2 separate regions of the Homo sapiens genome follow, and region 1 is linked to region 2. A link means that fine-mapping ties the variant in region 2 to the expression of a gene that starts in the linked region. Tissue or cell type: cerebellar hemisphere. Region 2 holds a variant in brackets; the other region holds the start of a gene. All regions are shown on one strand. Distances are from middle to middle.

Region 1 (8,108 bases), 570 kb before region 2:
TGCACATTCACAGAGAGGTAGGCCCTCGTCTCATTTTTAGTGTAGTTTTAGCAGGGATTTTGTGGGATATTAGACCCTTATATGACTCGTAATAAAGATGATATGCTAATGAGATACTCTTTGATTCCTTGTGTCTGCGTTCAGCTAATTATAACTTGGAGAAGATGGGTGATTGGTGTTCTGTGGCCTTCAACATTCATGGCCATGAATCTTCAGAAAAATTGTAAATATAATACACTTGGTGTTTGGGTTCCCTCAGGAAGATGATGAGGGACAGAGTTTGTGCCATGTGGCCATGTGGAGAAGAACTTTAATGTCATGCAGGAAGCAAGAACCTGCTCTTCTATCCAGATGTCTAGTATTTTCACATTCTGTAACCTGAAGCTGTTGACTTCATAGTTCTAGTGATGCAGAGTAACTTCAGAACTTGAGATGGAGAAAGTAAATCTACTTCATAAATCACAGGGTTATCTTCTTATTTCAGCTCTGTTGATAACTTCATGTTATAAGATATTATCTTTTTCTCTTCTTCACTGAAAACAGACCTTGGTATATAATTCTAAGATTGGTCTGGATTCATGGTCCTTCAATTTCTTTAATGTTTCCAAAGAGTTTTGTGTGTGTGTGCAAACACTTCTATACAAAAACTGGTATTTGCTTCACTTCCCCCTTCTAATCTCAACCCCTAGTCCCTTCTTTTATTAATCAACTCCTAGAAGAGTGACTTGCAGTATGTGTATATTAGAGCAATAATTCTTGCCAAAAAGTATCCAGAAGTAGATTTATATCAGAATTTGAAATATAAGGGATTCAGAGATTCTGCAGGACTTATAATATCTTCTTACAGTGTTACTTCAGAATTAAATAAAATGAGAGAAAGTAAAGGGTATAGTATCATTCCTGGCACAAAATACACATGTACTATTATTATTATTTTATTTTATTTTATTTATTTATTTATTTTTGAGACAGAGTCTTGCTCTGTCGCCCAGGCTGAAGTGCAGTGGCGCGATCTCCACTCACTGCAAGCTCCACCTCCTGGGCTTACGCCATTCTCCTGGCTCAGCCTCCCGAGTAGCTGGGACTACAGGTGCCCGCCACCATGCCCGGCTAATTTTTAGTATTTTTAGTAGAAATGGGGTTTCTCCATGTTAGCCAGGATGGTCTCGATCTCCTGACCTCATGATCCACCCACCTTGGCCTCCCAAAAGTGCTGGGATTACTGGCATGAGCCACCATGCCCGGCCTACATTTGCTATTATTAATACTGTCCATTGAGAATAGCAAAGATAGATTTAAAAACCCGAAAAAATATATATTTATTTTATAATTAAAAACAAAATAGAGGGTGGCCGAGGCAGGTGGATCACTTGAGGTCAGGAGTTTGAGACCAGCCTGACCAACATAGTGAAATCCTGTCTCTACTAAAAATACAAAAATTAGCCGGGCGTGGTGGTGGGCGCCTCTAATCTCAGCTACTGGGGAGGCTGAGGCTTGAGAATCACTTGAACCTGGGAGCAGAGGTTGCAGTGAGCTGAGATCGTGCCACTGCACTCCAGTCTTGGCAACAGAGTCAGACTCTGTCTCAGAAAATCAAATCAAATAAAAACAGAATAGAAATCTCAAATCTATCTCCATACTTAATTTCTAGCTTCAGTGATGCAAATGACTTAATGGACTAAGACCACGTTTCATCACAGGCATAGAATATTATGGCTGGCAAGGCCAGTGGAAGGCATCCGACATAACTTCTTCATTTTACTTATGCACACACTGAGATAGAGATTGTCTAATTGGTTCCCAAGATTCTATCACTCTTTTCACTATTCACAGATGCAAAACATCTTGATGAAATCTGGATGTTTAAAAGATCTGGATATTTATTTTGGCCTCTGTAGATTTTTAAAAGAATGTTTTCACTTTTATTTTGCATGTTAGTCCCCATGTAGCCAAAGCCTTTATCCTCTTCAACAAAAAACTATGAGGTGCAGTCACTGCAATGTCTACAGAAAAACAAAGTTATGAGGTCACTAAAACCAAAGAGTTTGAAGCTGAAAAATTGGCTTTGATTATCATATGTCAGTAGAATGCCCGAACTGTGGAACTGATTCTTAGAGTAAATCATTACTAATGGTTTTCCCATTGGGGGTGGGGGCTGCATGATTTCGATAAGATGACTCGGGGCCTGCGGTCACCAACTCATCCATGATTAAATGTTGCTTGTGAAAACTGTGGGTGATTTTCAGTTCTGACCAATTGAATACTTACAGTATATTCTGGGAAAGGTGTGTTTTGCTTAGGTGGCAACATTAGGAAAAAGGAAGAAGGATTTCCCTATGCCATTTTCAAAATGAATGTGATGGCTCCTTATCTCGTTTCTTTCATTGGTCTGCTAGTCCCATTATGTCAGGGATTATATTATTATAACATAGATTATCTTATTAAAACAGATTCTAACACAGAAAACAAAATCAAAATGAATTAAAAAACTACACTAGCCAAAATCTACATACTTCAGGAAACCTCCAATAAATAGCCATAATTTACCTAATATTTTGAATCATTGAAATGAAATCTCAGAACACAATGAATTCCATAAAAATGTTTTAATATACTCTTGTTATTTATCTCTAAATGCCTTTTAAGTTTCCCCCAGTTATTTATTGAAAATCTTTGCCTACAGCAGACAGTGCCGGATTTGAGCCTTGGCTCAGTTACTTTCTATCCCTATTATCTTGCGGGTAATCAGTTTCTTCATCTCCAAAATAGAGATGAAAATGGTCCTATCTCATGCGATTGTTGCAAGGCTTAATGAGAACATGGAAAGCACTTAGCATAGTGTCTGGTATGTAGCAACTACTCATCAAATGCATGCAATAATTATTGTCTGTCCATTTCGCTTTTCCATGGGGGGCAGGAACGTATATTGGGAAGCACATGGTGTCTGGAGTGAGTCTGTTCTGGGGTCTAGTTCTGAGTCAGCCACTTACTCCATGTGGCATCTTGAGAAATTTAATTAACCATTTGAGCCCTATTTCCTCATTTCTAAAATGGATATAATAATATCCAGTTCACTGGGTTGTTGTAAGCACAGTGCCTATTAAGTCCTCTTCTTACCAATCAATTATCAACAAGTGAACATTTATGAAGTCTATTCCAAGGACAATGCAAAGCACAAGGTGTAACAGGAAGTTTTAATAGAAAATAAACGCGCGTTCTCCACCACGGCCAAGGAGAGCATCTAACAAGTCATGCCAACCATGCACAATGAATTGCTGATGATATATGCAAATTAAAGTGGATCTCTAATCCATGCCCATTTATATTTTTCGAGTGTAGATGTGGATAAATTTTCAATGAGAGCCTTTTTCCTGGTATTCTTACAAGTCAGCAGATCTCCAAAGCCCAACTAAAATATGGGCTGATTAAAGACTCCAGAAAAACTGAAACAGTCGCAAACTGCTCGGTGGCCAGTGCCACAGAAACTAGGACGAAACGAGCCTCTTCTTTCTAACCAAGGGCAGATCTCAGGCTCTCTTGGGGAGGTAAAGCGGAAGGGTGAAATGCCGGTCAAGTTGCCTAGACTCTGATGGAAGCGGTGGCCAAAGGGCCCCTCCCCAGTGTCACCAGCCTCCCCATTCCTGTCACGGAGGATTTTCCTCAGGCGTCGTGACAGACCCGAGGCGTGTTGCCGGGGCCCGCCGGGCCGAGGAGGAGCCGACGCGGCCCGGGGAACTCCAGTCCTCACACGGTTAACGCTCTTCCAAGGAGAGTGGAGGAGGGAGGGTCCCCGCCCACGAGAACGAAGAGAATCTCAGGGCCGAAGCCCCGCCTCAGCCGGCCCGGCCCCTCCCCGCCAGCCCGCCACCCAACTCGGGCCGCACCAGGGGCCGCACCTGCCCGCGCGCACACGCCCCCCGCGCGCCAGGCCTCGCCGCCGCCGCCGCCCTCGGCACGCGCCCGCTGCGGCTGCCCCCCACCGCCCTGCCTCGGCGCGGGCCACAGCGCACGAGCCGCCGCCGCCGCCGCCGCGCTCCTCCCCGCCGCGGACGCCGCCCCCGCGTAACCGCCGAGGAAGCCGAGGCGAGCCCGGGTCGGGCGCGAGGGCGCGCGGGCCGCTGCTGCCACCGCGGGTGTTCCCTGCGCTCCCGCTCCAGCTAGGACTCTCTCTGCCGCCTCCTCCTCCTCCTCCGACCTCAGTCCTCACCACCCTCCTCCCGCTCCTCAAAAGCACCCCCGAGTCCCCACCCCCTCACGCCGCACCCGCGGGAACGAGGCCTTGGGAATTCAGGGGAGTGGCTGTGGGGGCGCGTCGCGGCTCCCAGCTCGGCCAGCCCCTCTTTCAAGACATGGTCTGATCCCCATTGTAAAAGCTGCGCCCCGAAGAGGAGGAGAGAGTCGTGCTCCCTGCCTGGGGCTGCAGGGAGCTCTCCGTGCTGAAGCTCTTGCATTATTTTAGGGTGGGGCGAAGAGGGCCCTGGATTTTGGGGAGTGGGGGTGGGTGGGGAGGAGGACCCGAGGGGGGCAAGGACTCTGTGGGGGAGTCGGTGAGAGACTATGGGGAAGGACCAGGAGCTGCTGGAAGCTGCTCGCACTGGAAATGTGGCTCTGGTGGAGAAACTCCTGTCTGGCAGGAAAGGAGGGATCCTGGGCGGTGGATCCGGACCCCTGCCCCTGTCTAATCTGCTAAGGTAAGGACGGGCACCAGCTCCGGGGTTGGCACACCTCATTATGCATTGTGATGGATATACGTCCTCCTCCTCACGGTTATTGCACCTGGTGGCTGCCAGCGATTCATTCTTAAATTAGGTAGGAAAACAGACTGCGTGTATGGAGAGGAGGTATGAGCCTCCCAGTCAGATTGATGCCTTAGATTCTTTGAGTAATTTTAAAATAGCCTTCCATCAATGCGTCAGTAAGCTACTTTTCCTCTGAGCCCTGGTGCAGAACTTGTACATGTACTAGTGTTGCTTGAAGAAAATCGACGTTCCGCCCGCTTTCCATCAACATTTATTACATATTTGCAGCTTTGAACGCAGCCTTTTTTGTCTAGTTAAATGAAATTGGCAGAGAATCTCTTGCGTGCATGCAATTACCCTGCAAAAGCCACAGCCTTCGGTGGCTCCTACCTTCTCTTGCAGAAGGCGTTTGCTGTGCCGTGGGTTATGATCCCACAAAATGAAGTGAGTGAACCTTCTTTCTGGTGAGATGTCTTCAGCACAGGGTGTGTATAAAACTTGATGGGGCAGGTTAGGCAGCCCCAGCAATACTTTCAGTTACCTGGACATAGCTGAGTGAAACTTGGTTGTTATAGCTCAGGATGAAGGATGCCAGGTTGGTATTGGGATACTGTATATGGAGTACGGTAGAGGCCTTTTAACGTGAAGATGTCGTAGGTGAGACTGGTATTGCTTGGAGAATCTTTCTAAGATGACATTTAAAAAAAATGTCAAGGTCTTCATTCAGCAGTACCTTGGAAATAGCGGGGTTGATTTCCATACTTGAGAAACTATTAAAAGTTGTATTGATGGACAAATGAAATCAACTGGGAGGGAGGAAGCCTGGAGAGTATTCACTAGATACAATTCAAGGGAAGCTCTTTAGTTTCTAAAATCGTGGCTATCCAATTTATCCTGGGTATTTTTGGAGTCATCAATTGTCATTCATATCTTCGCCTTAAAACATCTCTTGGATAACCCAACTATAGTTGTAAAAATTTTAGAAAGCCCAAGTGATTTCCCTGGTTTTTTAAAAACTGTTCCATGCTACCCTTGACAAGTGCTTAATAGAAACTTTTGGGTGATGACATTGCGTTCTTTACACAAGTTCTCATAGGTTGTGGTGGTCAGACAGTGCAATTAATTATAGGGCTAGCTAAAAGGGAAAATGGAAAGTTTCTATTACAGTGAAATAAATTGAGTTGAAAAATAGTCGATGGGATTTTAAAAAGCCCCATATGTTATTCTATATACTCGTTGACAGTGACATTTTATTGGAATGATAGTTCATGTCAGAAGAATGAATATTTATGGGACATTTTTTCAATAGGTCATAGAGATGACTTGTGTGTACTCCCTTGTTAAATAATCTTCTCTTTCAAACACAGGTAGACAATGTGTGCATATTTCAGATTGCAGCTCTAATAATTGCCTGTAGTCACATGTAGTTTATGTGAAAGCAATTTATCTCTTTACAGTTTTAAGTTACACGTAAAATAACAACGTTTGCTGTGGATCCATCAGTTATAAAAATGATTATGTCTAAAAACTGGTATGCTGAAAGAATTTTCTCAAAATAAACAATTTCTTCGGGAAAACATGAGGAATTATTTGAGAACAGTGAGAATTTCACTTAATTTTATTGTGATAAATCGTATTTTAAAAACACTCCTTGTGACAAAACTCAAAAGCAAACATCCTTTAAATACTCCTTTCCCAGCTGTGATTTTTTTTTTTTTTTTTAAAGAATAGATGTCAAGTTTTAGGGATAAAACACCAAGTATTTAATGTTAGTGGACACTAAAGTATCAAAATAGTGACCCACAGTGTATATCTTGAGTGAGAGGTTTTCTCTTTTGCTGGTGTAGTAGTAGTAGTAGTAGCTCTACAACAAAGATTGCACATAGAAAACAAAAGTAAACAACATGTGTTTATTAGAGTACTTCGAACCAAGTTGTAAAAATCACAAACAAAACCAATAACCTTTAAACTTGCTTTTATCCATCTTATACTGAATAGTGTCTGAAGAAAATGAGAGTTGAAATTGTATTCTTTGGGCAATCATTTGCATAAAATGACATTCCTAAGAAGGCACATTTTATTTAGTTGTCACTTTATTTCAAAAATGATTGTCATCAGAAATTTATTGGCAGGATAATGGAAAATGTGTCCCCCGTCAAACATAATGACACTTTGAAATTTCTTAATGTTTTAGAAGGAACTGTAGAATATGTTTGGCACTTTTTCCCCGCTTGCTTTATTACCTGGGTTGTGTAATAATGGTGTCAGACCCTATGCTAAGTGCTTACACGTGTCATCTCATTCAATTCTTGTGTCAGCCTTAGGAGGTCCATTGTCATTTCACAGATGAAGGAATAAAAAGATAAGATTAAGGACTTGCCCATGGTCACTTAATTAATAATGGCAAAGATTTGAAAATCTGTGATTCAGATTTGTTTTACAACATTTTAAGTCTCATTCATTGAATCTGTTTTATTCACAAAAGTTTAAAGGTATGTGGCCAATTTAGACAGGCCAATCTGAACATTTTTTGCTATGAAGAATAATTTGAAATTCCTTAAATTTTGGTATTTTTTTCTAATTAAAAAAATCTCACAACTGCCCTTTGAGGGTTCACTAGACAAGAACTTTTCTGAAGATGCTTCTGATTACTTGTTATCTACTGGTAATAAGAAATTATCCTTTCAACAGTAACTATGTAATGGGGAATCAGGTATGCTTTTGGGTGGCACTGCAATTTTCAGCAAATGTAAGAATGCCATTGAATAAATTTAAAAACCTCTCTAAGCCTCACTATTCTATCAGAGTGGAAATAGTAATAATAGTACCTATCATATAAGATCATTATAAGGATTAAATGAAGTATAAAGTAATGAATGCAAAACATTTAGCATATAGGTGTTCATCGTTAGTGTTAATATTTTTCATGCACCTCTAAAGCACTTGACTGTATTCTTTAAGGCCTTAATGACTAAAGATTTGCTTCCTATTGGACTGGGAGTAAATTTCCCATAGCAATCATAGAATCGTCAAATAAGGAGGGAACTTTCTTCCAACTTCTCACCTAGTGCGGAAATTTTCTCTGTAACATTTCTTACCTGTTAGTTATTCCAGCCCTGTTAAACCTTCCAATGACTAGATTCATTCTATTTTTGACAGCTGTAATTATTTTAAAATTTTTCTTTTCATTGAGCTAAAATCCACTTCCCTGTGACTTTCAGCAATTGGTAGTAGATTGGCTGTATGGGTCAATATAAAGCAGTCTAATTCATCTGCAGGATAGTTCTTTAGATGCATGTATTTTTGTTTTCTTATAAGTATTTTTCATGGAAGAGCTATCATCTCTGTTAACCTTTTATATGGCAAGAC
Region 2 (8,108 bases):
TTGTGAAAACATTGCCACGAGGACAGCACCAAGACATGAAGGATTTGCCCCATTGACCCAGTCACCTCCCACCAAGCCCCACCTCCAACACTGAGGATTACAGTTCAGTGTGAGATTTGATGGGGACATATATTCAAACTATATCACTTGGGTTTGTTTCTAAAGCAAAATATGTCTAATGACTAACTTCTTTCTCAGAAGCTGAAGTCTGATGTTTCCTCTTCAAGCTCCTAACAGCCTCTTAACTTTCTGCTCCTGTAAACAAGTCACCACAGGGGCTCTTTAACCTCCTAATGCCATGCTTTCTAAAAAGGCTTATTGTGATTAATTGGAGTGTATCTTCTCTTCTTTTTCCCCCTTCTTTGTGGTCCCTCATTGCCATGAGCCCTCACTCCTCCAAATCAGAGATGGTGGGCTATTTAGAGAGGTTCTACCAGGGTCTCTGCCACTTATTTCCCATCAGAGACGCCCCCGGAAGGTTTCTACTTAGAGCTCTTACTGCAATTTCCAGGGCAGCTCTCTTAAACACTGATAAAATAAGTCTGTGTGCTGTATTTTCTTCCGAACCTATTGATTTCCTCTTTTCCTTCAACCTTCACCTCTGTAAATTGTGTCAGGGAGATTCTGCTGGACTGTTCATGTAATTTGGTGATTCTGCCATTTATTAGGAGGGCTGCCTTATGATTTAACTCATCAATGTCTTCTTTCAGTTAGATCCTACTTATACTAAAATATTACAGTGGGAGAAGAAGATGAATACTTATCAATCCTTTACTAATTTAGGCCTTATTCTAGTCTTTCATTTACATTATCTCAATTAATCCAGACAATAATTCTGTGGGGAGGCTTATATAATCCTCATTTTGTGAATGCAAATACTAAACTGTAAATACCGACATTAGGATCTGAATCCAATTCTACTTTGCTGCAAATCCTATTTTGTCTCCCAAATATGTGTTAATAAGTTTAACCCATAGGAATTAGTTAGAAACATAAAGGTACTTTTTAATTGAGGATACCAATTTTTTCATTGATATGAAGATGAAGAAAGGAGTTTTAGAATTAGAGACTATTTCAGAACTTAATGATTTTGTTTCCTTGAGGGAAATCCAAATGAAATTTACATACAAATCATAACAATTCTTGATTATTTAGAAGCTTATTACTGAGTTTATGTATTTTTTAACACTTGCTTTATATACTTATACCCCTTCATATCAACCTTTTGAATATTCCTTTGCCAGGAATGAGTCAGGAAAAAAAGACAAACTTTTATTAATGGGCATTTTTATAACTGTTTTAGAAAAATAGCAGAAAAGGAGTTGAACTTGTTAGCTAAAATTAATTGTAATACTTATCTTCACTTTAAAACTTATTGCTATCATATTATGACACAAATTTTTATGACCCTGATTATATTTTACTCCAGGGGAAGTGCTATGTGCTTATTCTTAAAACTTCACACCATCTTAAATTTATTCACAGAAGTACTTATATTGTCACATCTTTCTGGTTTAAACCTTAACTTTATTCTACCTACTAACATATTTATTACTTTGTGATAACCCTCGTGGTAAATGCTTTTACAGATACTCTGGGGAAAATATTCTTTTAAACTATCATTAAGCTAAAAAAGTTCTGTTATTTTTATTGTATAGGAAGACATTTTGGGTAATTATAGCAAAAAGACAGAATGATGTAATGGAAAGTGTATTCATGGCTTTTAAGTGTTGAGAGAGCTGGATTCTAAAGCTGTCCAATAGTTACTGAGTATCTTTGACACTCAGTTTCCCTGTCTGCCCATCTGTGGAGTTTTTGTAGGATTTAGATGAAAAAAAGGTAGGATACCTGAAACAGAATGTATTTCATGGGCACTATTACTATAATAGTAAAGAGATGACTTAAGAATTAGAAAGCAGGCTGGGTGTGCTGGCTCATGCCTGAAATCCCAGCATTTTGGGAGGTCAAGACAGGAACATCACTTGAGGCCAGGAATTTGAGACCAACCTGGCAACATAGCCAGACCATATATCTACAAAGAGTTTTAAAAAATTAGTTGGACACGGTGGTGTGTGCCTGTATTGCTAACTACTCAGGGGGCTAAGGTGGGAGGATCGCTTGAGCCCAGGAGATTGAGGCTGCAGTAAGATATGATTTTACCACTGGACTCTAGCCTGGGGGATAGAGTGAGACCCTATCTCTAAAAACAAGAATTAGAAAGCAGAATGACCTTTGAGAAGTTAAAAACCAAAAGCAATGCCCACTCTTATTTGTAAAAATTTTCTTTCACGTATACAGCAATATAAGCTTTTATTAATATTTTGGCTGCTAGGAACATATCTTCTGTAAATCATTATATTGTTATTTCCTACTGTTCTTAAAGTGAAACTGAGAGAAAAAAGAAAGACACAAATTACCTATATCAGGAATAAAATAGGGATGTCACTACAGACCCTGAAGACATCAAAAGGATAATAAAGGAATATTACAAACTATTCTACATACATAAATTTGACAACTTAGCTAAAATGGATCAATTATTAAAACAAACTACCACAATTTACCCAATATGTAATACATAATGTGAATAGCCCTACAACTATTAATGAAATGGAATTCATAATCAAAAAAGCTTTCAAAAAATAAATCTCCAAGCTCACATTGTTTTGTTGGAGAATTATAACAACATTTAAAGAAGAATTAACACTAACTCTAAACAATCTTGTCTTGAAAAAAGAAAATGGGGGAATGTTTTCTAATTCATTTTATGACCTAGTATTCCCAATTCCACATACACCCACACCCCAGAGCAATATTCCTCATGAATATAGACAAAAAATTCCTAACAAAATATTAGCAAATAGTATTCAGAAATGTATTTTTAAAATTATATACAATTACAAAGTGAGGTTTATTTTAGGGATGCATAACTCATTCAATATTTGAAATCAATAAAGAAGAAAATCCACATAATGATATTAATTGATACACAGAAAGCATTCAACAAAATTCAACACCCATTCATGTTGTTTTGTTTTTTAAGACCTCTTAAAAGAATAGAAATTGAGGGGAATTTTCTCAACTTGATGAAGAGCATCTATAAAAAATCTACAGCTAACATTATACTTAATGGTAAAAACATGAAGACTTTCTTTCTAAGATTAGGAACAAAGCAAGGATGTCCACTGTGCTCACCACTGTCACTCAACATAGTGCTGGAAGCTCTAACCTGTGCCAAGAAGAAAAACAAAAAAATAAAAGGCATACAGATTTGGAAAGGAAAACTGAAACTTCCTATTTGCAGATGACATGATTGTCTTCGTAGAAATCCGAAGCAAGCTAAAAAACAAAACAAAACAAAACAAAAACAGCACTCCTGTGACTAATAAGTGAGCTCAACAAGGTCACGGGATGCAAGATACACATAAAAAAATTGTATTTCTGTGAACTAGTTATGAACATATATACACAGAAATTAAAAATACAAGGTCATTTATAATCACAAATACAAAAAGAAAAAATAATAATTAGATATAAATCTAACACTTTTATCCAAATCCCTCATTTTATGTTTTGGATGTCAAAATTTACATCATTTTGTAATTTGTATCCCCTGATTATTTTATTTATAGTTGTTTTAATAGATGTCTATTAACCATTGTACTAGAGATAAAATTGCTTTGCATACCAACATTTTTGTCCAGAGTATTCTGAATGTGATTCTGTAATGCTTATACCATTGAGTGTTGTGCTTTTGCATGTTTTATGTTATTAATTAGTGGCCTTTTGATACAGCTTAAAGAACTCCCTTTAGTAATTTCTGTGAAACAGGCCCAGTGATAATGAACTCCCTTAGCTTTTGTTTGGGAAAGTTACTATTTCTCTCTCATTTCTGAAGGACAGCTTAACTGATTTAAGTATTCTTGGTTGGCAATTTGTTTTCATTTAGCAGTTTGAAGATATCATCCTACCCCTTTCCTAGCCTGCAGGGTTTTTCCTGATAAATCCACTGATAGTTACATTGGACTTCTTTGTATGTGATATGTTTCTTACTTCTTGCTGCTTTCAGAATTTTTTCTTCGTCTTTAATTTTTGATAGTTTGATTATGAGCCTCGGTGAACTCCTCTTTAACATGTACAGGTCTTGTATACTGAAAACTACAAAACACTGATGAAAAAAAATGTTCAAAGAAGTGGAAAGACATACCTGTTTATGGATTAGAAGACTCAGTGTAGCAAAGATGTAAATTGTTCCAAATTGATATTTAGATTTAACATAATTCCTATCAAAGTCACAGCAACACTTTTTTGTAAATATAAGATTATTCTAATATTTGCATAGATACGTAAAGTAACTAGGATAACTAAAAAAAAATCGAAAGAGAAGAAAAAAGTGGGAGGAATCAGTCTA[C/T]CCAGTTTCAAGATTTATTTTATAGCTACAGTACTTAAGACAATGTAGTATTATCAGTGAAGGGATAGACACTTAGATCAATAGGACAGAAGAGAGAACCCAGAAATATACCCATACACATAAACCTGACTGCTATTTGACAAAGGTACAAAAGCAGTTCAGTGGAGGGAAGATAGCCTGGTGCTGGAGCAGTTGGACATACACAGGCCACAAGTTGAAACTTGACCTAAGTCATATGGCTTATGTAAAAATTAATTCAAAATGGATAATTGACTTAAAATATAGAACTATAAAACTTTTAGAAAAAAATAGGAAAAAAATTTCTGGGATCTAGAGTTAGACAAAGAGTTCTTATACTTGATACCAAAGACATAATCCATAAAAAAATAAATTGTCCTGATCCTCTCCTTCCTCCCAAATATAAATGAGCTTGGCATGGCAACGGCCACAGAGCACGTGTTTAAGAAGTGATAGTCCCCAAATCAGAGGGGGCCTGACTGCATGCCAGTAACCTCGCTCTCAAGAGCCTGCCCTTCTCCCTTTGCACTGTCTCCCTCCCCACCTCTGTTTATGCTCTATCAAAGAATAAGGTGTGACTAGCACCTCTGGTTAAAAAAAAATGTACTTCATTAAAGTTAAAAACTTTTGCTCTGTGAAAAACCCTATTAAGAAGATGAGAAGACAAGGTACATACTGGAGAAAATATTTATAAATCACATATCTAACAAAGAATAATATCTAGAACTTATAAAGCACTCTCAAAACTCAATAGTATAAAAATAATCCAATTAGAAAATGGGCAGAAGACATGAAGAGACGTTTTACTGCAGAGGATATGTAGATGGCAGCAAATAAGCACAAGAAAAGATATTCAACATCATTATCCACAAGGGAGACGCAAAGTAAAACCACAATGAGATATCACTACACACCTATCAGAAGGGCTAAAATAAAAAATTGTGACAACACTAAATGCTGGCAAGGATACAGAGAAGCTCATAGATTGCTGGTGGAAATGTAAAATTGTACAGCAATTTTGGAAAACAGTTTGGCAGTTTCTTAAAACATTAAACATTGAACTGCCATACCAACCAGCATTTGTACTTCTGGGAATTTATCCCAGATAAATGAAAACATGTTCACTGAAAAATCTGTACACAAATATTTATAGCAGCATTATTCATAACAGCTAAAAACTGGAAACAACCCAGATGTCCTTCATTGGGTGAATGGTTAAACATCCATGTCATTGAATACTATCCAGCAATAAAATGGAGCAAGCTATTGATACACACAACAGCTTGGATGAATCTGCAGAAAAGTATGCTGAGTGAGAAAAGCCAGTCCTAAAAGGTTACATACTGTGTGATCCTATTAATATAGCATTATTAATGTGACAAAATTGTAGAACTGGATAACAGATCGGTAGTTACCAGGAGTTAAGGTGGAGGTGGGGGCAGGAGAGAAGTGAGTGTAGCTATAAAAGGGCAATGGGGCCTGGCGCGGTGGTTCACGCCTGTAATTCCAGCACTTTAGGAGGCCAAGGTGGGTGGATCACGAGGTCAGGAGATTGAGACCATCCTGGCTAACACAGTGAAACCCCGTCTCTACTAAAAATACAAAAAATTAGCCGGGCGTGGTGGCGGGCGCCTGTAGTCCCAGCTACTTAGGAGGCTGAGGCAGGAAAATGGCGTGAACCTGGGAGGCGGAGCTTGCCGTGAGCCGAGATCTCACCACTACACTCCAGCCTGGGCGGCAGAGCGAGACTCCCTCTCAAAAAAAAGGGCAATGGGAGGGATCCTCGTGGTGATGGAATTGCTCTGTTTCTTGTCCTTTTTACGATGTTGCACTATAATTTTGTGAGATGTGCCCACTGAGGGAATCTAGGAAAAAGAAACATGAGTGCACTCTATGATTTCTCACAATGGCATATGAATCTACAATTATTGAAAATAAAAAATTTAATTAAAAAATTAAGCTATTTAAAAAGCAGTGTGCACCTTTATTTGTAAAAATGTCTTTCTTTCACCCACACAGTGATATGTGCTTCCTATTTTAGCTGTTCAGAATATATCTTCTATAATCCATTGCATAATTATTTCCTGCTGTTCCTAAGATGAAACAAATCACTTGAAATTGTTGCTTTAAAAAAAGAACTTAAGTGTGGAAAATAAAGCTGGTTTTACTTATTTTAAATTCTGGATGCATTTGAAGTTGACATGAACATCTATAAAATATTAATATATAAGTATTTGCAATACCTAAGTCAAAAAGTATTTTTTGCAAAATAGTTGTGACTATTTTCATGCTGGGAAAGCTTCTATGAGGACAAACTCCATGGTTTGGAGGTCAAAATGCTTTTCAGGTCTTTAATATCTACATTGAGTCCAAAACTACTTTTGACCTTTATTAAATAAAACTAGAATAAAAACTAGAACTTTTATTATCCTCTCATGTGTGTATACAGTCTTTCCAATGAAGATTTGAATACATTGTATGAAGAAACTAACTCATACGAAGAAACATATATTACAAATTTTCCATCTAACAAACTCCACACTCATGCTTATGTATGTTAAATACTAGGGATAGACTTAACACTTTTAAAAAATCTATTTTGACAAGTTGCCCTGAAAAGGGCATATACCCATTTATACTCTCTGGAATACATGTGCAGAACGCGCAGGTTTGTTACATAGGTATACATGTGCTATGGTGGTTTGTTGCACCCATCAACACATCATTTACGTTAGGTATTTCTCCTAATGCTATCCTTCCCCTAACCCCTCACCCCCTGGACAGGCCCCAGTGTGTGATGTTTCCCTCCCTGTGTCCACGTGTTCTAATTGTTCAACTCCCATTTATGAGTGAGAACATGTGGTGTTTGGTTTTCTGTTCCTGTGTTAGTTTGCTGAGAATGATGGTTTCCAGCTTCATCCATGTCCCTGCAAAGGACATGAACTCATCCTTTTTATGGCTGCATAGTATTCCATGGTGTATCTGTGCCACATTTTCTTTATCCAGTCTATTATTGATGGACATTTGGGTTGGTTCCAAGTCTTTGCTATTGTGAATAGTGCTGCAATAAACATACATGTGCATGTGTCTTTATACTCTTACTAGTGATGTCTAAGAAGGGAAAGAGTTCAATTTTACTGGGGCCAGCAAAATGTCAGGCTCACTTAAGGCCTAGAGAAATGGTTTTCAAATTATTTAGCCAGAGAACTCTGTTAAAAGAAAAGTTTATGTAGGCTGAGTTATATGAAATTGCTATTTTTGCAGGTAATACGGTTGAATATCAGCAGTTTCATATGTTTCAACCTAACAGAAACCTAATAGGTAAAAGCAAAAAAAAAAAGTATAACTGCTCTGATTGATGGTGGAGTAGGGGTGTTCAGAGGACCTCAGAGAAGGGCTCAAGAGCAACTGTCTGCTCTCAGAAAGCCCTGGGCTTGAGAGCAACTGTCTGTTCTCAAAAAGCCCTGGGCAGGAAAGGCAGGTGCAGGAACCTGGAACTCTCAGGGCCTCGGTCAGGGTGTGTGTGTGGGCGAGGGTGGTGCACCGGGTGAGGGCCCTTGTTATGGAGCTGGCAGAGAGGAAGAGAACATCAACAGCTAGCAGGAGAAGAGCTGCTTTGGACAGTTGCCTGTATCAGTAAATCTGACCTTGCTCCTATGTGGGATTGCAGTGTCTGAGA

What was found. PIP is the estimated chance that this variant, and not a neighbour inherited with it, causes the effect.
Region 1: it holds the start of ANKS1B, and the variant in region 2 is fine-mapped to the expression of ANKS1B in cerebellar hemisphere (GTEx, PIP above 0.99).

Annotation. Positions count from the first base shown.
Region 1 is chr12:99,980,687-99,988,794 of GRCh38, reverse strand. It overlaps ANKS1B (ankyrin repeat and sterile alpha motif domain containing 1B), which reads left to right and starts at 3,859. Exons shown (of 27, transcript NM_001352186.2): 1 at 3,859-4,691. The coding sequence starts at 4,558. RefSeq lists a silencer at 3,837-3,886 and an enhancer at 3,999-4,829.
Region 2 is chr12:99,413,780-99,421,887 of GRCh38, reverse strand. All of the region lies in intron 11 of ANKS1B (ankyrin repeat and sterile alpha motif domain containing 1B), which reads left to right. Among named protein-coding and RNA genes, the nearest start is that of GARIN6, 230 kb to the left of the region's middle. The variant C/T (reference allele first, on the strand shown) is at 4,412.